Linked DNA regions of Homo sapiens. The protein of the gene in region 4 purifies or fractionates together with the protein of the main gene of each other region. This does not show direct contact. Each region holds a gene or a part of one and is shown on either strand. Other genes may lie near its edges.

What was found.
Region 1: the proteins of GNAZ (region 4) and ITM2B purify together in Homo sapiens (co-immunoprecipitation; one large-scale study listed by IntAct). This does not show direct contact.
Region 2: the proteins of GNAZ (region 4) and RNF123 purify together in Homo sapiens (affinity purification with mass spectrometry; 2 studies listed by BioGRID and IntAct, with this or other methods). This does not show direct contact.
Region 3: the proteins of GNAZ (region 4) and RGS10 purify together in Homo sapiens (affinity purification with western blotting, with the first as the bait; one study listed by BioGRID). This does not show direct contact.
Region 5: the proteins of GNAZ (region 4) and RAP1GDS1 purify together in Homo sapiens (affinity purification with mass spectrometry, with the first as the bait; one large-scale study listed by BioGRID). This does not show direct contact.
Region 6: the proteins of GNAZ (region 4) and SYNGAP1 purify together in Homo sapiens (co-immunoprecipitation; one large-scale study listed by IntAct). This does not show direct contact.
Region 7: the proteins of GNAZ (region 4) and MTHFR purify together in Homo sapiens (affinity purification with mass spectrometry; 3 studies listed by BioGRID and IntAct, with this or other methods). This does not show direct contact.

Annotation. Positions count from the first base shown.
Region 1 is NC_000013.11:48,257,206-48,260,705, reverse strand, and holds part of ITM2B (integral membrane protein 2B), read right to left. Parts: intron 2,581-3,500; coding exon 2,470-2,580; intron 1,910-2,469; coding exon 1,759-1,909; intron 1-1,758. UniProt on the Homo sapiens protein: Plays a regulatory role in the processing of the amyloid-beta A4 precursor protein (APP) and acts as an inhibitor of the amyloid-beta peptide aggregation and fibrils deposition. Plays a role in the induction of neurite outgrowth.
Region 2 is NC_000003.12:49,713,557-49,717,056, reverse strand, and holds part of RNF123 (E3 ubiquitin-protein ligase RNF123), read right to left. Parts: coding exon 3,470-3,500; intron 3,320-3,469; coding exon 3,232-3,319; intron 3,148-3,231; coding exon 3,060-3,147; intron 2,968-3,059; coding exon 2,883-2,967; intron 1,483-2,882; coding exon 1,343-1,482; intron 1,236-1,342; coding exon 1,047-1,235; intron 956-1,046; coding exon 880-955; intron 665-879; coding exon 580-664; intron 229-579; exon of another isoform or gene 1-228. UniProt on the Homo sapiens protein: Catalytic subunit of the KPC complex that acts as E3 ubiquitin-protein ligase. Promotes the ubiquitination and proteasome-mediated degradation of CDKN1B which is the cyclin-dependent kinase inhibitor at the G0-G1 transition of the cell cycle.
Region 3 is NC_000010.11:119,511,720-119,515,219, forward strand, and holds part of RGS10 (regulator of G-protein signaling 10), read right to left. Parts: intron 1-3,500. UniProt on the Homo sapiens protein: Regulates G protein-coupled receptor signaling cascades, including signaling downstream of the muscarinic acetylcholine receptor CHRM2.
Region 4 is NC_000022.11:23,094,519-23,098,018, reverse strand, and holds part of GNAZ (guanine nucleotide-binding protein G(z) subunit alpha), read right to left. Parts: intron 2,773-3,500; 5' UTR 2,324-2,772; coding exon 1,601-2,323; intron 1-1,600. UniProt on the Homo sapiens protein: Guanine nucleotide-binding proteins (G proteins) are involved as modulators or transducers in various transmembrane signaling systems.
Region 5 is NC_000004.12:98,411,384-98,414,883, reverse strand, and holds part of RAP1GDS1 (rap1 GTPase-GDP dissociation stimulator 1), read right to left. Parts: intron 1-3,500. UniProt on the Homo sapiens protein: Acts as a GEF (guanine nucleotide exchange factor) for the Rho family of small GTP-binding proteins (G proteins) that stimulates the dissociation of GDP to enable subsequent binding of GTP.
Region 6 is NC_000006.12:33,447,565-33,451,064, reverse strand, and holds part of SYNGAP1 (ras/Rap GTPase-activating protein SynGAP), read right to left. Parts: intron 3,236-3,500; coding exon of another isoform or gene 3,223-3,235; coding exon 3,132-3,222; coding exon of another isoform or gene 3,129-3,131; intron 2,277-3,128; coding exon of another isoform or gene 2,262-2,276; exon of another isoform or gene 1-2,261. UniProt on the Homo sapiens protein: Major constituent of the PSD essential for postsynaptic signaling. Inhibitory regulator of the Ras-cAMP pathway.
Region 7 is NC_000001.11:11,788,965-11,792,464, forward strand, and holds part of MTHFR (methylenetetrahydrofolate reductase (NADPH)), read right to left. Parts: intron 3,416-3,500; coding exon 3,314-3,415; intron 2,363-3,313; coding exon 2,243-2,362; intron 1,935-2,242; coding exon 1,716-1,934; coding exon of another isoform or gene 1,576-1,715; 3' UTR 496-1,575; coding exon of another isoform or gene 306-495; 3' UTR 80-305; coding exon of another isoform or gene 1-79. Other genes in the region: uncharacterized protein C1orf167, read left to right, coding at 1-79. UniProt on the Homo sapiens protein: Catalyzes the conversion of 5,10-methylenetetrahydrofolate to 5-methyltetrahydrofolate, a cosubstrate for homocysteine remethylation to methionine. Represents a key regulatory connection between the folate and methionine cycles.

The DNA.
Region 1 (3,500 bases), on a different chromosome or scaffold from region 4:
GAAATCATGTCCTTTGCAGCAGTATGGATACAGCTGGAGGCCATTATCATAAATGAATTAACACAGAAACAGAAAACCAAATACCTACCTTACAATGCTCTCACTTATAAATAGGAGCTAAACACTGGGAACTCACTGACATAAAGATGGGAATGATACATACTGAGGACTATAAGGAAGGGAGGGAGGGAGGGAGGAGGTAAGGGTTGAAAAACTACCTATTGGGGAACGCTTTTACACTGTTGGTGGGAGTGTAAATTAGTTCAACCATTGTGGAAGAGAGTGTGGCAATTCCTCAAGGATCTAGAACCAGAAATACCATTTGACCCAGCAATCCCATTACTGGGCATATACACAAAGGATTATAAATCATGCTGCTATAAAGACACATGCACATGTACGTTTACTGTGGCACTACTCACAATAGCAAACTTGGAACCAACCCAAATGTCCATCAAAGATAGACTGGATTAAGAAAATGTGGCACATATGCACCATGGAATTTTATGCAGCCATAAAAAAGGATGAGTTCATGTCCTTTGCAGGGACGTGGATGAAGCTGGAAACCATCATTCTCAGCAAACTATCACAAGATCAGAAAACCAAACACTGCATCTTCTCACTCATAAGTGGGAGGTGAACAATAAGAACACATGGACACAGAGAGGGGAACATCACACACTGGGGCCTGTCGGGAGGTGGGGGCCTAGGGGAGGGATAACATTAGGAGAAATACCTAATTTGGTGACAGGTTGATGGGTGCAGCAAACCACCATGGCACCTGTATACCTATGTAACAAACCTGCATATTGTACACATGTAACTCAGAACTTAAAGTATAATAAAAAAAAGAAAAGAAAAGAAAAACTACCTATTGGGTACTTTGCTCACTACCTGAGTGATGGGATCATCTGTACCCCAAACCTCACATCAGATAATATACCCTTTGTAACAAACCTGCACATGTACCCCTGAATCTAAAATAAAAGTTGGAAAAAAAAAAAAAAAAGAAATCAAGCTGGTTTCAGATGACTCAACCGCCGGAGATGAGAGAACAGTATTATTTAAAATGCTAGCAAAAAGCCAGGAAAGCACTTTTACTGGGTGACACAATTCCAAAGAAATCACACCACAGTGTATCTGAATGGCACTTCTTACTTTCCACAGCTGCCACATGTACTTTCTTTTTATTTTCACAATGCTCTTAAAAGGAAATGGGGAGATACTGTAATTCTTATATTTCAGGTGAGAAAATAAAAGTTAAATGATTTGGCAAAGCTACAACATTAGTTGTATCAATGCTCTTAGTTCTTCACCCAAATTCCTTTCCAACTACCCTGACAGTGATTATTCCCAATATGATCCAAAAGGCAAACAGCCTGCTTAGAATCCAGATCCCTGAAAACACAGCTGAAGAGCTGGTCCCAAGACACCCTCTGGATAATAAAAACCCTTTCAGTATGGCTCAACCAAAGTGGTAGGATGGGAAGTTGGACAGGGTGACTAACTAGATGGAAAATGAGGTACCATCATCTCAAGGCAATGACATTTCACATTGACCTTTTCTCTCCACCTGAAAAGAGTGGACTTACTAAATGGAATTAAGATAATTCTATAGAAACCTGGAAATATTATATAACGACACAATATTACCTCACTCATGGCAGGTATATTGGTAACAATGACTAGGCTTCACCTAAATCTAGTTTAATGCAATGAACTTTTCTGCCCAACACTTTAATATTTAAAAAGTATTACCTTTAATAGTTTCTCTGCGTTGCAGTTTGTAAGTTTCCTTGTCATGACACAGTCGATAAATAAAGAAACCCAGGTGATCAATGTTTTCAATGCGATCAGTAATAACCATGTGCTCATGAATCAGATAGGACTGAGGCAAATAGGTTCCAGCCTACATTCAGAAAAGAATACATGACATGACTATCTCAGAACATACACTGAGTAGACTAGAGAAACAAGACAAAATTCTTACACATTATGGTATGGAACAGGTTGCCAAACTACTACCCACCATCTGTTTGTTTATGTTCTCACTATGTTGTCCAGGCTGGTCTCAAATTCCTGGCCTCAAGCAATCCTCCCACCTAGGTCTCCCAAAGTCCTGGGATTACAGGCATGAGCCACCGCCCCCGGCTTGTTTTTATAAGTAGAATTTTTTTTGGAATATAGTCATGTTCATCTGTTTTACGTATTGTCTATGGCACCAGAATTAAGTAGTTGGCTAATATTTACTCCCTGGCTCTTTAGGAAAACTTAAAACATTATTTGAGAAATTTATTTCAATTTCAAGATATAAAACATTAAAAACAAAAACCATGAGTATTAGTTCCTCTTTGTAAAATTCTTAACTACAGTCTGATAAAATGGGCTCCTATAGGGCTAATTTCTCAACAGGGAATTCCAGAACACTATGAAGGCATCATTCATCAAAAACAGTCAACATTCTTATACCTTGATGTTAATAAGTAACTCCAGTAGGTTTCTGGGTGGCATAACAATGGAAGTGTTCAGAGGGATCACATAGCACTTATCCAGGTTAAGATCTAAATAGGCTGTAAGTTTCTGGGAAGAAAAAGATACAGTGTAGTTACAGTAATACTTGCAAAAACAGGCAGCAACTGGATTTTTAAGAATAATTTGTATCATTAAAATGAATTGGCTTTAGAATGTATAAATCACTTGCATTTCAACAAATTCAGAATTTGGCTGGATAAAGTTGGAAGTGGGAATGGGAGAGGAAAAAATATTGCTACCAGTAAATAAAATGCTCATCGAGGGTATATTTCTATAATAAGTAATAATACCTATTCAAATTAACTGCAAATACTTATTATATAATTAAGCAATTTAACTTCCCCACTTATAAGCTCAAATGCCCTCTAAGGTTATCTGTCCATTGTTTGTAAAGATTAAATTTTCTCATATGTATCTTGAATACTACCATCCTTAGAACATTAGAAAAACAGTCATTTAAATGATTTTGTGTTCTGTGGTTCAAATGAGAAACGCTGGTTGAGAAAGACTGTCTCATAGAACGGTTTTTAAGAATAACTTAAATCAAATAATGTCAACATTTTGATTCCTAAGAGCTCAGTAAGTGTTAACTATTATTATTTACTATTTGCTTTGGAAGTTTATTTCCTTGAAATAAGTAAATTTTCAAACTGGTTTATAAACATCCATCAGATGTATTTATCAGGCACGAAATGTTTGCAAAGCTAACTTCAGTAATATATTCGAGTGTTCAAAATGGCAAGCTTACAGAGAGACATAAAAATCACAGGTGATACATGAACTTCTGAATCTCTGAATCCTGATTTGAAAAAACAAAAAATTCTTGGGACAAAAATTGGGGAAATGTAAACATAAACAGAAATGTAAACATATTAAATACAGTAGTCCCTCTTATCTGAGGTTGTGCTTCTCGAGTTTCAGTTACCTTTAGTTAACTACAGTCCACAAATACCTAGGTGAGTACAGCA
Region 2 (3,500 bases), on a different chromosome or scaffold from region 4:
GAGCAGGAGCCTCTTAAGGGCTGGCACTGGTCTCAGCCTAATGGCTGAGGCGGTACCCTGGCTTCATATGCATCTCACTGCTCCCACTGCAGGGGGGCAGGGAAGGGGGGTCTGGGAGCCCTTCATGTGTGGGGGCCGAGCTGGGGGCCCCCATGGCCATCCTGGACCTCGCTGCTCCAGAGTTTAATAAAGGTAGCACATGCTTATTGCTAGAGCCTTTGCAGACAATGGCGGTCCTCCGTGTGTTCAGCTCTCCTGGCGGCCTGGCCCTGTCCACCACAGGACGGCACACCCTCCGGAGTCCTGCCTCCCATGCCTGGCCTGAGGCATGGCCACAAGCCAGTGGCTCTGTGGGCCAGGGCCACCTGTCCTGCTGGGGTCCCAGATTCTCCTACTTAGAGCAGCTCCGTCTGCCCCCTATTTAGGCCGTTCACACCTCACCACCTTCCCTCTGCCTCAAAACCTGATGCTGAGGTCCATTTTCCAGATGAGGAAACTGAAGTACCAGGAGGCCCTGTCCAGCCCCTCCTCACCAGACACACCCAACTCCCACAGGGGCCCACGGTCCCCAACACTCACTCTGAGGCTGGGCCACGCACCAGGAGCTGCACCAGGATGCCCGTCACTGCCACCAGAATGGGATAGTGGTCCACGCTCTCTAGGCCTGAGGGGAAGGGGAGGAAAGAGATGAGCCACCCACATGCTCCTGCTTCAAGGGCTCCAGGCCTGCCCACTGCCCTCTCTACAGAAGGGTGAGCCGAGACTGCAGAGCACCAAGTCTGGCTGTCCGGGGGCAGAATGTGGAATCAGGCCTCACTGTTCCTAGCAGAGGAACCGAGGCCTGTAGTGTGTTGGGGTGCAGGGCATCTAGGTCCTCACCAGGCAGCCGTAGGGTGACCACACGATCAAACAGGTTCCTCTCAGCTGTCACCCGGTTCAGCACCTGGTTTAGCAGCTGTGAGGGGAGCAGGAGTCCATTGGTGGATGGGGAGCGTCATCAATGGGGCATCCCCAGGGTCCCACCCTTGTTGCCCAGATGGCCACACCTGTGCAAGACGCCGCAGCAGCATCTCAGAGGTAGGCCGGGTCCAGTCAAGGAATATCTCAGGCACCAGTGTGATAGTCATCTCCAAGACACGCAGCAGGCTGACCGAGAGGTCAAAGCAGGTGGCACATACCTTGAGCTGCCGGCTGTCCACAAAGTTCCGCTCCAGGCGCTCAGCAGCCTGCTGGATCTGAGCCACCAACACGTGGGCATGCAGTGGTCAGCACCTGGCTCTAGCCCAGGACCAGGCCTCATCCCTTGCACCACCCTAACCCACGAGGCCCCACCACAGCCCACCTCTTGGATCATGCCAATGAATTCAGAGAAGGCCCAGTTGAGCTGATTGAGGACGCTGTTGAGGAAGCTGGGTGCCACATCAGGACCCTGCTGTAGGAGGTCCGCCATGTGCTGCTGCAGCAGGGTGGAAGGGCAGGGCTCTGCAGGGGGACAGGAGGCGGCATCATCAGGGACTCCACTGCAGTGGCCTCTGCCTGTTTGCCTCTGTCCTCGCCCATTGAGGCTTTGGTATAAGGACAGAAAGATGGCTCCCTAGGAATGCTCAGGTCATGAAAGCAGGGGACAGAGGACAGCTGCCTTGGAGTTAGTTGGGACAGAATCTGTCCCCTCCTTCTACTAGGCAAGCCCCAGGCTGCAGCTGTGTCCAGCCCTGACACCACACCATCCACTCCAGGTCCAGAGCAGCCACACAGCCACAGCCTGACCCTCAGCAAGTTCTGGGTCGCACACCCTTCAGATAGGGTCAGACCTAAACAGGGCGGCTTAGATGCTTCCCCACCGGCACCAAGGCCAGCTCCTCCAAGAGCCTACTCTAAGCCCTGCTGCAAACCTGCTGTCCTCTACTGTCCTCTGCTGCCCTTGGCCTGGCCTTGGCATATGGCCGAGGTGGTGGGCACCAAGTCTGGGCTGGCAGGCAGCAGTAACCGGAGCCCTCAGCTGCAACGGGCCTGGCGCACCTCCCCACCAGCTTGATACAAATCAATAGTTCCCGCAGCAGCAGGACAGGCCTGGCCCCACTGCCGCTCTCCACTTGCAGCTCAGTTCCGCCCTGGACGCAGGACCACGGCAATTGGCAAGGACTTGCTGTGTGACTTAGCAGAAGACACTCAGCCTCTCTGGGGACACCCTTTGGACCAAAACACTGCCCACAAGGGCAGAAACAGACTACATGAGCCAAGAAGAGCCACCATGAAGGGTGAGGACAGTGTGTGGCACACCTGGCACTCTGCAAGGGCCAGGCCTAGGGGAAAGTCCTTGCTGGACCCTGGAGAGAGGGCACAGCCTCTGCTCCCAACTAAATGTCCCTTCCTCCAGGAACTCTCGTGAATACCCTCTGGGGACCTGGCCAACCTCCAATCTGTGCTCCCAGTGGACTCAGGTGTCCAAGGCCTAAGCCAAGGCCAGGGTCTGCCACCAGCAGATAGCAAAAAAGAAGCAGAAGGACATGGTGCTGGGACAAGGCTGGAGGTCAGGGAGCTAGCTTAAAGGGCAAGGGACAGAGTATTCAGTCTGCATGAGCTGTAGCAGGCCAGGAACATGGTGCCGCCTCTCACCATGACCCACATAGAGCATCCAGGCCCAAAGGGCACATGTAGGTAAGACTGTGGGCAAGGCTGGGGAGGGGGAGTCCCATCCCGAGTATCCTTGGGCTGGAAGGAAGCAGGGAAAGTGGAAACCCCAGGGGACACGTAGGGAGTCTGGGACCCAATGGGGGAACCAGAGAGGGGCTGGAAGAAGTGGAGAGTCTGAAAGAACCCATGGGTAGGAGGTAAGCGCCCCCGCCTGCCTTGCCCAGGACTCGCCCAACCCAGATACTCACTCTGGAGGCTGGGCAAATTGGCGTCCTCAAGTTTGGTTTTCAGCAGATGTGGCAGCCGTGTATAGCGGTACCCGAAGCCACAGCCCTGTGGAGGTGGGGGTCAGTGCCCAGGTCAATGGGACAGCGCACCCTCTCCCTCCAGCCAGCCTCAGCCACTTCCCCTCGAGTCAGGCTTACCCTCCAGAGCCGCACCAGGATCCAGTTGGTCTGGGCCCAGGGCCGCTGCTCATAGGGCGCCAGGAGGTTCCTCACCATGGCGATACGCCTGTGAGGGCAAGGAGGGGAGAGACGGGGTGAGGCTGGGCATGGTGCTTGTGGCCAGGGTGTGTGCCCCCCAGGCCCCACTCACTGCTCCTCGGGGATTCGCTCCACAGCCCGCAGGGAGTGTGGGTAGCACACGTAGCTGGCCAGGGCCTGCATCAGTGAGTCTCGGATGTCTGCGGGGACACACCGTGCCTCAGCAGGGGCTTGGCATGAGCCCTGGACCCATACTTCATGCCCACCTGGCCACATTTTTCATAGAAGAAAGCCGACCAGAGGTGCCATCCCATCCCCCTCCCCCTGTACCCTCTGTAGGGGCCCCTCACCAGTGCCCACAATGCGTGCGTCGGCAAAGTG
Region 3 (3,500 bases), on a different chromosome or scaffold from region 4:
AGGCTCACTTATCATGTCACTGTCCCACAGCACAGGGATGCCCATGGTGCGGCGTGTGGCAATGGAGGTCCCCACGCCCAGGCTCAGGCCTCGGTGCTGTGCTTGTACTCAGTGTCATTTCTGTGTCCTCCCTAGCTGTCAGTGATCACCTCTTGCTGCTCATCACTCCATAGTCTCTACCACAACTTCAAATCTGCTATGAATGGAAAAACCTGTTAGAACTGTGTGCAAACCAAGAATAAACAGGACCTGACTGAAAACTCTTGAAGCTCTCCTTTAAACAGGGTGCATGGGAGTTGGCTCATCTAGCCTGGGGCTCAGGGAAGATTTTCCCGTTCTTCTAGGTTCCAGCGGTGCCCTACAAAGTCAGAGCTGCCCTACTAGAAGCTCAGAGAGCAGCGGAGCCGCACGTGGTGATGAGGGGCTAAGTTCGGGGGCGGCGGTGCTGAACACAGGAAAGCGGCTGCTCTGCGGCTCCACCATGAAGCCCAGCAGTGCTCAGCAAAGCCAAAGCCGCGGGAGAGGCTTTTGAAAGTTCCGTGAAATCTTGTGGCTCCAAACATGTTCCCCTCAGCTTCAATCTCCTTCACTTAGGAAAACAGAGCTCTCGAGGGAGCCTTTGCAAGAAAAAAACCGGGGCTAATGCTGAGCACGCATTTTGACAGTTACAGCAAGGCCCCGGAGAGACAGAGTTTTCAAAGCAAAACGGAACACAGGGGCCCTTCACATGGAGACTCACTGTGAAATCGGCTCTGATTCCAAATACCTTGTTTTCACCCAATTATGCCTTAGGAAGAAAGTTCGTGGATCTTTCTCTCTATGCAATTAAAAAAAATTTTTTTTTTTGAGGTGGAGTCTCACTCTGTCGCTCAGGCTGGAGTGCAGTGGCACTATCTCGGCTCAGTGCAGCCTCAGCCTCCCAGGCTTAAGCAGTTCTCCTGCCTCAGCCTCCCGAGTAACTGGGATTATAGGCGCCCACCACCACGCCTGGCTAATTTTTGTATTTTTAGCAGAGATGGGGTTTCGCTATCTTGGCCAGGCTGCTCTGGAACTCCTGACCTCAGGTGATCCACACGCCTTGGCCTCCCAAAGTGCTGGGTTTACAGGCGTGAGCGACTGAGCCCAGCCTTCCAATAATAGATTTTTAACAACAGAGTATAACAGTACTTGCTTTACATTCAGCAGTTTGGACTGCACATCTGTTTGGTGTGCATAAACATATACATTATTATTACACTTATTAGGCCACATCTGTTAGGGGCATGTGCATATGTGTATTTATAGAAAAAAAGATGGAAAGTCTACAGATAAAATACTATTTGGTGGTTATCTCCAAGTGTGCAATTATGCAATAAAGAAATGATTTCTTCTTTATATTTTTGTTTCCCAAGTTTCTTTTGCTGAGCATGTGTGATGCTTACAGTTGGATAAAAACTATTTTAAAAAATTTTTCTGAGGCTGGGCCTGGTGGCTCTTGCCTGTAATCCCAACACTTTGGGAGTCCAAGGCTGGAGAATTGCCTGAGCTCAGGAGTTCAAGAATAGCCTGGGCAACATAGCGAAAGTTCATCTCTACAAAAAAAATACAAAAATTAGCTGGGCATGGTGGCACACACCTGTAGTCTCAGCTACTTGGGAGGTTGAGGTGGGAGGATCACTTGAGCCCGGGAGGCCAAGGCTGCACTGAGCCGGGTTCATGCCACTGTGCTCCAACCAGGGCAACAGAGGGACATCCTGTCGCAAAAATAAAATAAAATAAATAAATAAATAAAATTCTTTGTCATTAAAAAAGAAAAAAAAAACAATCAGCCTCTGTCCCCTGTGTTTCTTCCTTTCTGTGCTGGCTAAGCCTCCCACTGAATGAGTCTAAGGGGCACGCCTACTCATAAGGTCCAGCTCCGTTCTGAGCTGTTGGGCAGGCGGGCTGGATCTCTCAGAGCCTGCAGTGCTACCGCATGGAGTCAGAACTCTCCCATTCCTCATCCTACCTTGGCTCCCGCAGTCCTGGGAAGTGGGATGACCTGCATTCACAAAGCCTTTCCAATCCCTCTGCTCCAGGGGCCTCACCGAGCTTTGAGAAACAGCAAGAGGCTGCCCAGGAGCCTGGCAGAGCAACACAGGCCATGATGGTCATGGGGGGAGCATGGTCTTTGAAGGCAGATGGACAAGAGGGAATCTGGCTTCCAGCACTTTTGCTCCCTGCATGACTTAATGCTAAAAAAAACACTTAATCTCTCTGAACCTTGCTTTTCTCATCAGCAAAATGGGAATAATAACACTCATTGGAGATAAAATGAGACAATACACACCAAGTGTGACATCAGGCTCAAACGGGCAGTCCTAAATGGTAGTTAGGGCCAGGCGTGGTGGCTCACGCCTGTAATCCCAGCACTCTGGGAGGCCGACGCGGGCGGATCAGTTGAGGCCAGGAGTTCGGGACCAGCCTAGTCAACATGGTAAAACCCCGTCTCTACTAAAAATACAAAAAATTAGCCGGGCGTGGTGGTGTAGGCCTGTAATCCCAGCTGGTAGGGAGGCTGAGGCAGGAGAATCGCTTTAACTCAGGAGGCAGAGGTGGCAGTGAGCCGAGATCGAGCCACTGCACTCCAGCCTGGGCAACAGAGTGAGACTTCGTTTCAAAGAAAAAAACCTGAAAAGGCCAGGTGCAGTGGCTCACGCCTGTAATCACAGTACTTTGGGAGGCCAAGGAGGGTGGATCACTTGAGGTCAGGAGTTCGAGACTAGCCTAGTCAACATGGTGAAACCCTGTCTCTACTAAAAATACAAAAATTAACTGTGTGTGGTGGTGGGCGCCTGTAATTCCAGCTACTCAGGAGGCTGAGGCATGAGAATCGCTTGAACCTGGGAGGCGGAGGTTGCAGTGAACCAAGATCAAGCCACTGCACTCCATCCTGGGAGACAGAGTAAGACTCGGTATTAAAAAAAAAAAAAAAAAAGAACAAAAACACAGAACCAAAAGCGAAATGGTAGTTAGTGTTGTCATTACTGAGAATACCTAGAGCACAGAGGTCAGTACAGGTTCGCAACCCTGGCTGCACTTTCAAGTGCCCTAGGGAGCTCTGACAAGATTCTGAGGTCCAGGGTGGGGTCGATATCCTCATATGGCTACAGTCACAAAAACTGCCTTTTCACCATACATTCCACTCCCTTTCCCAGCGCAAATCAATGCCCATGCGTCCTTCCGACTGGCTCAAATTCACCACTTCCAGGAGGCCCTCCGCAAGTCTCCTTCAATAGCCAAATGTGAATCAGAATTCACATGGAATATGCTGCCCAATGCTAACCTTTTCATTATGCCTCAGGGGCTACATGATGAACTATTAATAGCTTACAGCATTAGGCCACCAGAAGTATGTGGAGGTGTCTGGATATTTGCACAGAAACAGCCTGCCACTTTGAGTTCTCCTGCTTGCTTTCTGGAGTTTTCCGTCTATTCTTACCTTCAGCAATTATAGGTTGCTTTCTCAGTACAGGCTCCTC
Region 4 (3,500 bases):
CTCCATGAAAAACTGGACTGACTCAGGACCCAGGTATCCTGCCTCCTGTGTCCAGCACACCTGTGGGCACGGCCTGTCAAAGGATGCAACTGGGAGCCAGGCCTGGTGCCCGGGGAATTTGCCACGCCTGCCACTGTGGTGATGGGTGAGGCCAGTGGCGCAAGCCCGTGTGACTGGCAGACCCACCATGGCACTGTCCCAAGGGTCTGGCCTGAGCACCTCACTTTGCCTTGCAGCTTCTCAGCCCCAAGCGCTCTGCCCACGGCCATGCCTCATCAAGGGAGCCTGACCTCACTCATCTGCTGAGATGTCCCCTCTGCCCAGAACCACACATGGGGCTGAACTTGTGGCAACCACAGGGTAAGGGGCCAGAACCCTGGAGAGCACACAGATACACACTGGGAACAGGGTGGACGCAGCCGCCTGCGTACACACCTGCCTGCCCGTCCGTCATTCGTTTCCCCCAGGCACACCATCAACACCTAGGCACAGTTCCAGGGAGACCCCTGATGCGAGGAGGGGAGGGAGGCAAGCCCGCCTCCCCAGCTGCCTGAGGAAAGCCAAAGATCCTCTCTCTCAGAACACTCAGGCTCCTAGCACCATGGCCACTGCCTAGAGCTGTCCAGGTTCCCTGGCTGGGGCACAGGTCCAAAGCTAGAACCATTGTTGCTCTCCGCTGAACCTAAAGAATAAAGCTTGCCTTAGGACTGGGTGAAGCAAGGAGTGACCTCGGAGGCCAGTGCTCCCAAGTGGAGAGGCTGAGCCCTTGTCTCCCAGCATCACCCTCCCCTAGCCCCAGGGTACCCACAACTTCGTGACTCCTTGTTTGCCCCCACTCCCCCATCCCCAGGGTCAAAGGCCTCTCTCTTAAGGGCAGACTTGAAATCTGTGCTCAGGGAATCCTGCTGGGCAAGACAGCCCCTCCCTTGCCTGCCACGGCCTCCACCGCTGCCACTCCTGGCTGTGGCCCCCTTCGTGTGCTAGACCTTCTGTCCTGGCTGGGCCTCAGCACACTGCCCTGCTGCTTCACCCGGCTCCCCACCCTCTCCAGCAACTCCACTCTCAAGCCCCCACCGCTTCACACTGGGTCCAGGTCTCCCTCGGGCTGCGCCCATGCCACTGTGAAAGAATCCCAACACCTGCTTTTACGTCGTCCCCTTTCCACCAGGACCTGGGATTATCCCTTCTAAACAGCTCTTAACCCCATCTCTGCCAGATTTGCAGACTCAAGATGGGGTTGCAGGGGTGGCTGCTGTTCCTGGACCTATATGCTGGTAGGAGACTGGTGCTGGCAGGAGCTTCATGGATTTGCCAAACTATCACATGGATTGATCATGGATGCCCGGCGGAGCCTCACACTCTCTTGCCCTGTGGCCTCCACACCCTGAGTACTTCAGGCATGGGACATGACACCTGCACTCCACACCCTGTTCCCTCTGCCCCCACCTTGCTGGAGCTGCCTCAGTTATCGTGCAGCAGGGCCAGGCCTGCGCCTGGTTCCCTTTCTGGCTGCAGACTGTCCTGGACCTCACGAGTCCTCTTGCTTCCAGGAACCCACGACAGCAGGAACAAGCAGAGGAAAACCCCCGGCCCCACTTACTGTCTGGTTATCCTCGTAGAGTTTCAGGTCGTAGCCGCTGAGCTCCACACAGAAGATGATGGCTGTGACGCCCTCGAAGCAGTGGATCCACTTTTTGCGCTCTGACCTCTGCCCCCCCACGTCCACCATCTTGAAGGTGAGCTCCTTGAAGGTGAACTTGTTCTCCACAATGCCCGTGGTCATGTCCCGGGAGCGCAGGATGTCCTCGACAGTGGGGATATAGTCAGCTGCGGCGATGCGCTCCAGGTCGTTCAGGTAGTAGGCCGCGTTGTCCTCCAGGTGGTACTCGCTGGAGCGGCTGAAGCAGGCCTGTGCCCCTGGGTCGGCCCAGAGCCGTCGCATGACACCCAGCAGCTCGGGTGTGATCTCGCCCTTGCTCTCAGCGGGGCCCGTCAGCGCAAAGAGCTGCACAGCGTCGTAGGCGCGGTCGGGGTTGTGGAAGTCGATCCTGAGGGCGGCCAGGGCCCGGATGATGCGGGTCAGCGAGTCGATGGCATTGTAGATGATGAGGGGCTTGTACTCCTTGCAGGCCTCCAGGTTGAAGCCGCCGCTGTGGATGATCTTCATCTGTTTGACGATGGTGCTCTTGCCTGAGTTGCTGGTGCCCAGCAGGAGCAGCTTGATTTCGCGGCGTTGCCGCTGGCTCTCTGAGCGCAGGTGGCGGTCAATTCTCCGGGACCGCCGGGCTGCTTCTTTTTCCTCTGAGCTTTGCCGACATCCCATGGTCTGGCAGCAGCGGGCCCAGACAAGGAGCACGGGATGGGGCACCTCTCCCTCTTGCCACAGGGGACACTGAGACCAGGCAGACAAGAGCCCAGCTGCCCTGGAGGCACTCAGTGCCAGCAGGGGGGTGAGGCCGAGCCACACTGCAGCCCCTGCCCCAGCGCCTCTTCTCCAGCCGGCATGGCGCTCTGTGCAGCGGGCGGTGGCCGCCCCTCCCCACTAGTGACACTCCACCTCCCTAGTTGGCAAAGTGGCCTGATTTGCCGTAGTCATTCCCTGTCCTCGGCGACGGTGGGAAGCCGTCCGCTTGTGTTTGCCTCGGCTGCTGCCGTCTGGTTGCTGGTTGCTGTGGCGATGTTGCTGAGTGGCTGGAGGGTTGGAGGGCCGGTCGCTGGTGTGCTCCCTGCAGCCCCCCGCCTCCGGCTCCCACTGTGCATCCAGCCCTTCACCTGCCAAACACAGAGAAAAGCGTGAGCCTCCTCCCCGCAGCCCCACCTCAGGCTGGACAGTGAAAGGGAGCTCTTCTGAAAGCAAAGCAGCAGAGACTGGCCTTGGAAAATGAGCCGGCAACAATCCATCCAACCCCCTCTCCTCCATGGGGCGCTGTAGGGCCCACACCATGGTGTAACACATATGTCTGCTGTTGCCTGGACAGTCCACCTGAAGCCAGGTGCATGAGGGAGAGGAGGGTGTGTGCGAGGCCTCTGCCCACCCAGCCCCCATGCTGGACTCACTTCTACCGCATCCAGTTAGGATTCAATAAGGTCACCCTGTTGTGATGCCCCCTGGGGCCCTTCTCCCAGACAGCACTGATAGAGCTCAGCCTTGCCCTGTTTTACACGGGTGGCCAGGCCTCGGCCCAGCCCTGGGATAACTGAGCGCCTCCCTGACTCTCATTACCCCCGCAGGAGCTGGGTCACTTCTGATCACAGGGAGGAAAAGCACCAGGAGGGAGACCTGGCCCCTGCTTTCCCTTGAGGGCACTCTGATGGGCCAGCCCAGGAGCCAGCAGATAGGCAGGGACCAGAGCAAGGTGGAGGCTTCAGGCTGTGGGAGCACCGTGAGGTGCCTAAGCACAGTGGGCAGGGGCTGCCTCACTCCTGCAGAAGGAGGTAGAGGGGGGCTTGGGCTGAGACCAAGGAGCTGGGGGCTGCACGTGGTGCTGCGGGGAAATCCA
Region 5 (3,500 bases), on a different chromosome or scaffold from region 4:
AAAGAGGATACAAACAAATGGAAGAACATTCCATGCTCATGGGTAGGAAGAATCAATATCGTGAAAATGGCCATACTACCCAAGGTAATTTACAGATTCAATGCCATCCCCATAAAGCTACCAATGACTTTCTTCACAGAATTGGAAAAAACTACTTTAAAGTTCATATGGAACCAAGAAAGAGCCCGCATCGCCAAGTCAATCCTAAGCCAAAAGAACAAAGCTGGAGGCATCACACTACCTGACTTCAAACTATACTACAAGGCTACAGTAACCAAAACAGCATGGTACTGGTACCAAAACAGAGATATAGATCATTGGAACAGAACAGAGCCCTCAGAAATAATGCCGCATATCTACAACTATCTGATCTTTGACAAACCTGAGAAAAACAAGCAATGGGGAAAGGATTCCCTACTTAATAAATGGTGCTGGGAAAACTGGCTAGCCATATGTAGAAAGCTGAAACTGGATCCCTTCCTTACACCTTAGACAAAAATCAATTCAAGATGGATTAAAGATTTAAATGTTAGACCTAAAACCATAAAAACCCTAGAAGAAAACCTAGGCATTACCATTCAGGACATAGGCATGGGCAAGGACTTCATGTCCAAAACACCAAAAGCAATGGCAACAAAAGACAAAATTGACAAATGGGATCTAATTAAACTAAAGAGCTTCTGCACAGCAAAAGAAACTACCATCAGAGTGAACAGGCAACCTACAAAATGGGAGAAAATTTTCGCAACCTACTCATCTGACAAAGGGCTAATATCCAGAATCTACAATGAACTCAAACAAATTTACAAGAAAAAAACAACCCCATCAAAAAGTGGGCGAAGGACATGAACACACACTTCTCAAAAGAAGACATTTATGCAGCCAAAAAACACATGAAAAAATGCTCATCATCACTGGCCATCAGAGAAATGCAAATCAAAACCACATGAGATACCATCTCACACCAGTTAGAATGGCAATCATTAAAAAGTCAGGAAACAACAGGTGCTGGAGAGGATGTGGAGAAATAGGAACACTTTTACACTGTTGGTGGGACTGTAAACTAGTTCCACCATTGTGGAAGTCAGTGTGGCGATTCCTCAGGGATCTAGAACTAGAAATTCCATTTGACCCAGCCATCCCATTACTGGGTATATACCCAAATGACTATAAATCATGCTGCTATAAAGACACATGCACATGTATGTTTATTGCGGCATTATTCACAATAGCAAAGACTTGGAACCAACCCAAATGTCCAACAATGATAGACTGGATTAAGAAAATGTGGCACATATACACCATGGAATACTATGCAGCCATAAAAAATGATGAGTTCATGTCCTTTGTAGTGACATGGATGAAATTGGAAATCATCATTCTCAGTAAACTATCGCAAGAACAAAAACCAAACACTGCATATTCTCACTCATAGGTGGGAATTGAACGATGAGATCACATGGACACTGGAAGGGGAATATCACACTCTGGGGACTGTGGTGGGGTGGGGGGAGCGGGGAGGGATAGCATTGGGAGATATACCTAATGCTAGATGACGAGTTAGTGGGTGCAGCGCACCAGCATGGCACATGTATACATATGTAACTAACCTGCACAATGTGTACATGTACCCTAAAACTTAAAGTATAATAAAAAAAAAAATAGTAATACCCTGGGGAAGGAATTGCATTCCTGGGGGGAGGTCTATAAATGGCCGCTCTGGGAGTATCTGTCTTATGCGGTTGAGATAAGGACTGAAATACGCCCTGGTCTCCTGCAGTACCCTCAGGCTTATTAGGGTGCGGAAAAGATCCCGCCCTGGTAAGTTTGAGGTCAGACCGGTTCTCTGCTCTCGAACGCTGTTTTCTGTTGTTTAAGGTGTTTATCAAGATAATACGTGCACAGCCAAACATAGACCCTCATCAGTAATTCTAATTTTGCCCTTTGCCTTGTGATCTTTGCTTTGCCCTTGCCTTGTGATCTTTATTGCCCTGTAAAGCACGTGATCTTTGTGACCTACTCCCTGTACACTCCCTCCCCTTTTGAAATCCCTAATAAAAACTTCCTGGTTTTGTGGCTCAGGGGACATCACGGACCTACCGATATGTGATGTCACCCCTGGAGGCCCAGCTGTAGAATTCCTCTTTTTGTACTCTTTCTCTATTTCTCAGATGGGCCGACATTTAGGGAAAATAGAACATACATTGAAATATTGGGGGCTGGTTCCCCCAATAGATACACCTTACTCATCTTTGTATCTTAACCTAAACTGGCCTATCTAAATGCTTTGAGTGTAGTTGATACTCCTTAAGATAAATGCTAGTCAACTCACCTGAAAAATACATTTGCAACACAGATTTTTTGTTTAAGAGACAGTGTCTCGCTCCGTTGCCCAGGCTGGAGCGCAGTGGTATGATCATAGCTCACTGCATCCTTGAACTCCTGGGCTCAAGCAATCCTCCTATCTCAGCCTCCTGAGTAGCTGGGACTAAAAGTGCATGCCACCATGCCTGGCTAATTTTTAAACTTTTTTTGTAGAGACAGGGTCTCACTATGTTGCCTAGGCTGGTCTTGAACTCATGGCCTCAAGCAATCTTCCTGCCTTGGCCTCCCAAAGTGCTAGGATTACAGGCATGAGCCACTGTACCTGGCCAGAAATTTTTAAATTTAAACTTTATTTTTTCAGTTGGATTTTATTTTAGTCATTGGTTTCCCTAAGCTGTATATGCATCCATATATGGCAATGGCAGCTTCAGCTTATCATTTAGGAAAAATAAAGACTTTTAAAAATAAATACTTAAGACTTTCAGGCAATTTTAATGTGTTAAAATTTGGCTTTTTTGAATCACTAGGATCACTGATCTTCTTTTGAATATTATCTCAGAATACACAGAGTATTCAACCTGGAATATTTCTTTAAAAGGTACACTTGTACTGTGCCATGCTAAAAGTAGGGCGTTTCCTTGGTTACAGAATGCTAGGGCTAGAGATGTGTGGTGACTAGAATTAAAAACTATGATGAAAAAGCCTTAAAAATACTAAAATCCTTGAACTATACAAATCCCAACTTCTAATGCTGAAATCACTCTCCTTCGTGTACTGGGAAAATGAAGGATGATACATGCAAAGAATTAGTCCAAAAACAAGCCTTCAATGGTATCATCCTATCCATTGTGCAATTATAAAACAGATGTGAAGGCAGAGGGGAAAACAGTAATAAATATCAACACATTGTTATTTTGAAATACTGCAAGGAAAGTTATAGGTTATTTTATGGCCTAAAATTGACTGAAGGTCACAGTAAAATTTTTACTTTGCCAAAACACCAATGAGATAAAAAACAAATTTCTCCCTAAGAAATAGGACCTAAGACATTTAAGAAATTTTAAATGTGTCAATATTGTAGTTTTAAAATTTTAATTAATTTTTTTTTTTGAGACAGGGTCTTGCTGTGTTGCCCAGGTTGGTCTTGAACTCCTGGCTCAAGCAATCCTTCTGCC
Region 6 (3,500 bases), on a different chromosome or scaffold from region 4:
ATTTCATTAAATAGACACTGTCATTCCGTTTGTCACTTATTCACAGTGGCCATCTTCTCAAATATAACATTCCAAATTAGAGAGAGGTTTAACTGTACTGGGGGGAAAGGAAGGGGATTCAGGGAAGTGATATGGGAAGGGAAAAATCTTGTGGGAGGGCTGCCCCTCTCTCTCACAATTATGGCGGAAATGACTAGGAGCTTCTGCAGACACAGCATGCCCCAATCTCTGCATCCCTGGGAAGCAGAAACTGGCTTTATTCTTTTCCACTCCCATCTTCTTTTCAGTCCTTCTCCCTGGGCTCCCAATTAGAGGGTGAGGGGTACCAGACCAGCTCCTACCCCTGGTTCTACTCTCATCACCTCCTATAGCTCCTTGACCAACTCCTGGTTCCTGCCCTTAGCTCCGCCTTCTGTTCCTCTGCTGGGAGAAAAGAAAGCCATCTGAATTTCCCTACGCTTCTGGTTGGGAAATTCACTTCCTTCTCTCTTTGGCTGTTGTAATTATCTGGGGTTTGTACTGTACATGTCCGTGTGTGTGTGTGTGGGCTGGGGGCAACACTTGGCTTTTTAAAATTCAGGCTCAAAACTAATTTCTAATTAATGGCTGAGTTGCAGAGAGACCAATACCTACCACAAGTGGTTTAGAACAAATGTCCAAATTATTTCCTGGGCCACATGGCATTTAGGCTTGGTAATATAGCTATGTCTGACCTTAGGATACAAAACCTTCCAAGTAAAAGCTTCTATATAAGCTCTCCCTTCCATCCTAGGATCAAGGAGCTAACCTCTCAGATCACCCAAACCCCAGCCTTGGGTATGAGATACCCAGCAAAACTGCCTTCTTAGCTTGCTGGGTATCTCACACATTTTCTGCAAGTCAGTGAGAGGAAATCACTTATGGTAGGGTATCCTGAGTATGGCGGGAGAGCAGGGAAGGAACCCCCAGATTCCATTCCCTCTGTTTGTCTGCTGGTGACAGCACATAAGCATGCCCTGGACACCCCCATGGACCCAAATTTAGAAAGTGGATAAATTAGGGTGCCATTATTCATTTTACAAAAGAATTCACTGCAGGAGTCCTTTAAATGGCAAAGTCCCCTGGTGCCTTTTAGCATCTTTATAGATCACCAGCTACTTTGACAGAGAGGCTGGGCAGGCAGAGAATTAAAATTACAGTGTAAGGAGCCACTGCCCACTGCAGCTCAATCCCAAAGAAAATCGCATCTCAGAAATGATGGCTATAGCTGACAGGTTCTCATTTACTGGCTTTTTAGGTAGGGTGATGTGTCCGGCAAGGCCACTCGATGGCAGGAGAGGGGGAGTGAGTGGCATCAGCAACCTGGGGATGTGAGCTGTGAAGAGTACATTCTTTACCATGCTGTTCCTGGCACCTCTCCCTGGGAATCAACATGCCTACTGAGCCCACGATCTGATCTAGGAGGATGTCTCTCCCCATTTCTAAACTCCCAGGCCACATGATCAAGTCCATGTCCTAACATCTGCCTGAGGTTCCTTTCTTGCTCCTTCTTGTTCCATCCACCCTGCCTAATGTCAGGACATCTCAATAGCATTTTTTCCAGGGTATCTCAAGTCTCCCTGAGTTAACTACCCACTCCTAATTCCCACCCAATGGGGGCTAATATGAGCTTCAGATGCCTTCTGCCTCACAGATATAAGGAGGAGGAAGAGAGAGAATCAGGTGAGGAGTGGAAAGGAGGGTAGAGAACCAAGATTAGGGAAGGAAGAGGGAAACCCAACCTACCTGCTGCAGTCAGCACAGCCCCTATAGCCAAGATCCTCCAACCCATCATTGCCTCCACCCCATTAACAAACCCACCCCCAGCCCCTAAGGACGCTCTGGTGAAATGGGGGGTGACAGACATACACTGGAGAGGTAGAGGAAGAGGAGGGCTTAGAGTCAGGAGGAGGCTGGGAGGGGGTGGGTTTTGCAGGGAAGTGGGTGTGACCTGTGAATGTGCTGGGCCCATCTAGGGCCCAACTCTTGGTGTTGCTAAGGTATTGTTGGACAGTTCTGGGAAGCAGCAGCAAATGCTCTCTTTGGGTGGTGTCTTGGGAGATGGATCTGTGCAGGTGTCGGAGGGCTGGAGTCTGTGGAGGTTCTCTGGGTGTGGAGGGCAGCAGTGAGAGGGGAGAGGCTCCGGAGGTGTTGGAGGGAGTGGGCTTCACGACCAACCTGCAGTGGTCCGGAGTCACCTCCCCCTGTGTCCTCCGCCCGTGGCCAAAGCGGAACCAGGAGAATTACCTGATGAGGAGCTGCAGTGGGAGAGAGTGGGGTCATGGGGTCAGGAGCCTTGGTGGGGGGATGGCAGGCGGGGGGAGCCTAGCAGTCAGAGCAAAGAGGAGTATGGGTAGGAAAATGAGCAGAATTTTGGGAAAGCAAGGGGTAAGGGTGCAGAAGGGAGGTCCTAGAAGCTGGCTTGTGAGAAGAGAGGCTGGGCAGCAGGCAGCTGGGAAGGTCTGAGGGCCAGAGTGGGAGGGAGGCCAGAGGGAGGCTGGACTTAAATACTGAGGGCAAAGGGAGGTTACAGGATGGAAGGCCTTCAAGATCTGAAGAGTCAGGAAGAGGAAGCTATGCAGGAGCTGCCAAGGAGACAGGAAAATTAGGGAGCCAAGAGAACAGAGGTGATGGGTCCCCAAGTTTTCAGGGTACCGGCCAGGGCCTGGAGAAACTACAGATCATACTGCCCTGTGCTCTATTCCAGAAAACGGCAGCTTCTAGCCCTCTGGCCCAAGAGCGCAGAGGAAGCTGAACAACGTGGCTTGAATAGGAGTGAGCAAAGAAGGGGCAGGGGTTCTTGGAACTAGGTGGGGTCTAGGGGCAGAAAGACCAAGGTTCTGGTAGAGAAGGTCCTGAGATGCAGAGAGGAGTGGGAAGACTGGATGGGAAGGCACAGGAGTTGGGCTGACGCTGCCAGGAGTGACAAAGGCACAGACGATGGGATGAAGATGGGGTCACTAGGGGGCTGCCAGGAGCAGCCAGTGGACAAACAGCAGACTATGAGAGACAGATGGTGATGGGGCTAGGTGGCTGGTGTAGTGAGTGCACGAAAGACAGTGGGATGGATGGGGATGGGACACGGAGAAGATAAATGACATTGTAATTTCCACCTGAGCGTCGAGCAGCCTCTTCTTGGGTTCTGGCAGCGGCTCAGCCATGGCGGGGTGGTCCCGGCGCAGCTCCTCCTCCACCAGCATCAGCCTGAAGGGACGGGCTTCAGTGGGGTTAGTGGCGGGCACAGGCTCAGAGCCTGCCCATGGAACCCCATAGCTCTCTGGAAAAACCTCAGGCATCCTTATCCCTTAGAATCAGAGTCCCTCCATTGCCGTGATGCAAGACTCCCTGTTCCTCAGGATCATGCTCTCCACCTTCCTCCCAGGAACCCTTACACCTCCCTGCTAAGGCAGCTTTCTGTGCCTCAAAGACTTCTACCATCCAGACACCTCCAGGCCTCCATCGTCCCAATCAGGACAGCAGTG
Region 7 (3,500 bases), on a different chromosome or scaffold from region 4:
GGTCCATCAGTTTGCGAAGAAGGTGTGGCATGAGGCATGGCTGCCACTCACACTAGCCCATGGAGGGCCTGGGTCCTGAGCGCCCCCTCCCTCATTTGCTCTGCTCTGAGTACAGCTTCCCAGCTCACCATCAGATCTATTCTGAGCTTGTGCATTTGGCCTAGGCAAGACTGGCTGGCTGCTTGGGGCAGAGGGAGGGGCCCTGGGGACAAAAGGAGCTGGGTACAGGGGTTGCTCTAGCAGGCACAGCACAGACCCCGGAGAAAGCCCACAACAATAGCATTTCCTCTCCTCCCTGGTTCCAGGCCTTTAAGAAGTGGCACCAACGCCTGGCAGCCAGGAGCCCAAGGAGAGGAGCTGCCAGTAGCCCAAGACCCTGGAGCAAGCCAGGCCCCAAGGGCCCCGAGAGTGGACAGGAAGCCGCCAGAGCACCGCGGGGTTGGGGGCTTGGGGCAGAGCATGGGGCCCAGCTGCAGCTGTGACTTGTTCTCATAGAATAAAAAACAGAACTGAACTTAGCCTTCCCAGGGAAGGAACCATGCCCCACACATCCAGGGAGTGATGACAGAGGGGACAGCTTGAAGAGCTCTGAAGGACAATAAAACCCACTCCTCAGTCCTAGCTGCTGCTTTCAGTCTCTCCTAGCGGCTGCCCCTCTGCCCCAGCCAGTGAGGCCAGGAAGGGAGTAAAGAGGACATCCCACAATTGCGTCCACCCCCTTGGCCATCAGGCTGCTCTTCCACTACACGAAACAGCCCATCTGCACCTGCCAGTCACTGCCCCCAGGCCCTGGGGCTTGCAGGTGACTCGTGGGGAGCCAGGCCAGGCAGATAACCTCTGGGACAGGACGAGGGGATGAGGAAGGCAGCTGGCAGGACAAGGGCCTACCTGAAAAATACACCAGGAAGCTGGGCTGCTGCACAGGCCCAGGCAGATCTGGGGCCCCTGTGCTGGCAAATCTCATCTTAGCCTCTGACAGGGAACGGGGCAGCATCAGGCCTCCACAGCCAGGCAAAAGGGGAAGGCCACGAGCCCCACCAAGCACAAGGGTTCAGACTGCCTTCAACCCTTAAGGGGCACTTTTTCTCTCAAGGCTCAGAATAGACAACTGTGCCAAAAAGCAGCATGGTAGGTGTCAGCCCAATGCCCATCCAGGGGGCTGGTGCCATGGACGGCTAAGTGGGCAGGCAGGGCAGTGGTGTGCCCCTTCAGTCACAAGTAGGTGGGGCCCAGCTGCCCACCTCTAGGAGGTGGAAGGGTACAGCACTTTGCCACATCTCTTCTACGATGCCACCAGTGCCTGATGCCCTTGCGTGTTTTGCCTGTACTGCACGGGCTCCAAGTGTAAGTTCACTGGGAGTCCCAGGCTGGCTCTGGAGGCTGCCTTGGTTCGAGGGCTTAGTTGGCAACAACCACTCTCCTCGCCTTCTCAGGAGGTGCCACCCACTGTGGTCCTCTGCAGGACGCAAGTGCTCCCCACCAAAAGAGCACAGACTCCTGGCTAGAGCAGAGAGTACTAGGTTCCCATGTGGGGCCGACTCAGGTCCAGGAAGAGCCTGGAAGCCTCACTCCAGTCTAGCTGCCATTGTCAGGTGGGGGAGTGGAGGCCGGGGTGGGAGAGACACGAAGGAGAGTGGAGTTCCCAAGAGAAGCAGCACTGTGGAGGAGGAAGGCGGGACAGGAGTGGCTCCAACGCAGGGCGTCAGGACGCAGGGTCATGGAGCCTCCGTTTCTCTCGCATTCTGGGTGGGCCTGTTGAGAAGCTCCAATGTGTCTTCCACCACCTGCCAGAGGCAGTTGTCCAGTGGGAAGTCATTGTCCACCAGGTTGACCAGGAAGTAGTTGTCGTGGATGTACTGGATGATGGTGCGGGACGGGGACTCCTCCTCATACAGCTTTCCCCACCGCTCAATCCACAGGGCAAAGGCCTCGTCCTACACACACATACCCCCGCACACACGCACACATGCACACACACACAGAGGCAAGATTAACAGGGCTCTCCAAGGGCTCTGCTCAACAGGACATTTCCCGGAATAGAACAAGGCCCACTGCCAGTATCACTTCCCACCCCTGCCCAGAAATAAACACCCTGCATCAGCAGTGACATGGGTGAGTCAGAGCTGGGTGTGCCCTGAAGGCTGGGTCCAGTGTGGCCTTCAGCACACGCTTGGGACTTGGTCCCAATCCCTCCCCACGGTTTTCCAGGTGGGCGGGGCAAGCTTGCCCCCGGCTCCTTTACCTTCCAGAACATGAAGCTGACGGGATCCACTACGGTGGGCTGGATGATCTCTCGCCCAGGGAAGATGCCCCAAGTGACAGCATTCGGCTGCAGTTCAGGGGCATTGGTGATGTTTTCACCCTGAGGGGATGTGGGGTGGGGGTAAGACCTGGGCCAAGAACAACTGGAGTCCCACTGCCTGGACAGCCTTGACTCAATGAGGCTGTCTGGGCTCAATACCCTCTGCCTGCGCCTCCACTCCCGGCCTCCACTCTCCCTGCGCCTCCACTCCCCTCTCCCTGTGCCTCCGCTCCTGGCCTCCTCTGCCTGCATCTGTGAATGATATCTCTCCCCACACAAGCCTGAACCTAGAGGCGTCCTGGCCACTTCCCCTCTCCTCCTTGAGCACCCCCTGCTCACTCTCTGATCCATTCCCTCTTGTCTAGCCCACCTCCAGGAGTGTGTTTGGCTTGGGTCACTCCAGGGGTCTCTTCACTGGCCTCCCCGGCTCTAGCCGTCCCCAATCTCTCTCATCCGTATGACTATCCACTGTGATTTGCCTAAAATAAAGCAGGAACCAAGCCACCCCACTGCTGGAGAAAGGCTTCCCTTGCATTGAGGGAAAACTCAAATTCCAGCAGGACAACCATGATCTCTGCGGGCCTGGCCCCTGCTTAACACTCCCGCCTCCTCCTGCTCATGTTCCCCGTTTCCCCAGATGGTGCAGCTCACTGCCTCTGCCTGTCCTCTGCCCTGTCCCAGGAATACCCTTCTCTCCTGTTGGCCAACTCCTCTTTGTCCTCAGTGATTCCCACAGATGACCCTCTGAGAAGCCTTCCCTGGCCTCCCAGGTGAGATATCCCTCCTCTGGACCCGACAGCATCCTCTCCTGAACTTGATTTTCCCACTTACACTGGCTGGTGGTCACACATTGATCTGCCTCCCTCACTCTAGGCTGGGAGCTCCTTAAGAGCAGGGCCCCAGTTCTGCCTGTATCTCTCTGTCTTGCACAATGCCTAGCCCAGGCTAGGTGCTGGGTGTTTGCTCAACGAAGGGCCTGGTACTCTGTGGGAACCCTGGGGCCTGGCCTACCTTCACATTGACAAGGTGGTAATTAACCCGGAGCTCGTACTTCTTCAGCACTTGCAGAAGTGCTTCCGCTGTCTCGCGGGAAGTGAAAAACTCTAAGTAGGCCTGTGGGAGAGACAGGTGCCTGTCACCAACCCCAGCCCTGCCAGACGCCCTTTCGCAGACACCTAAGGTATCAGGACTACTGGCA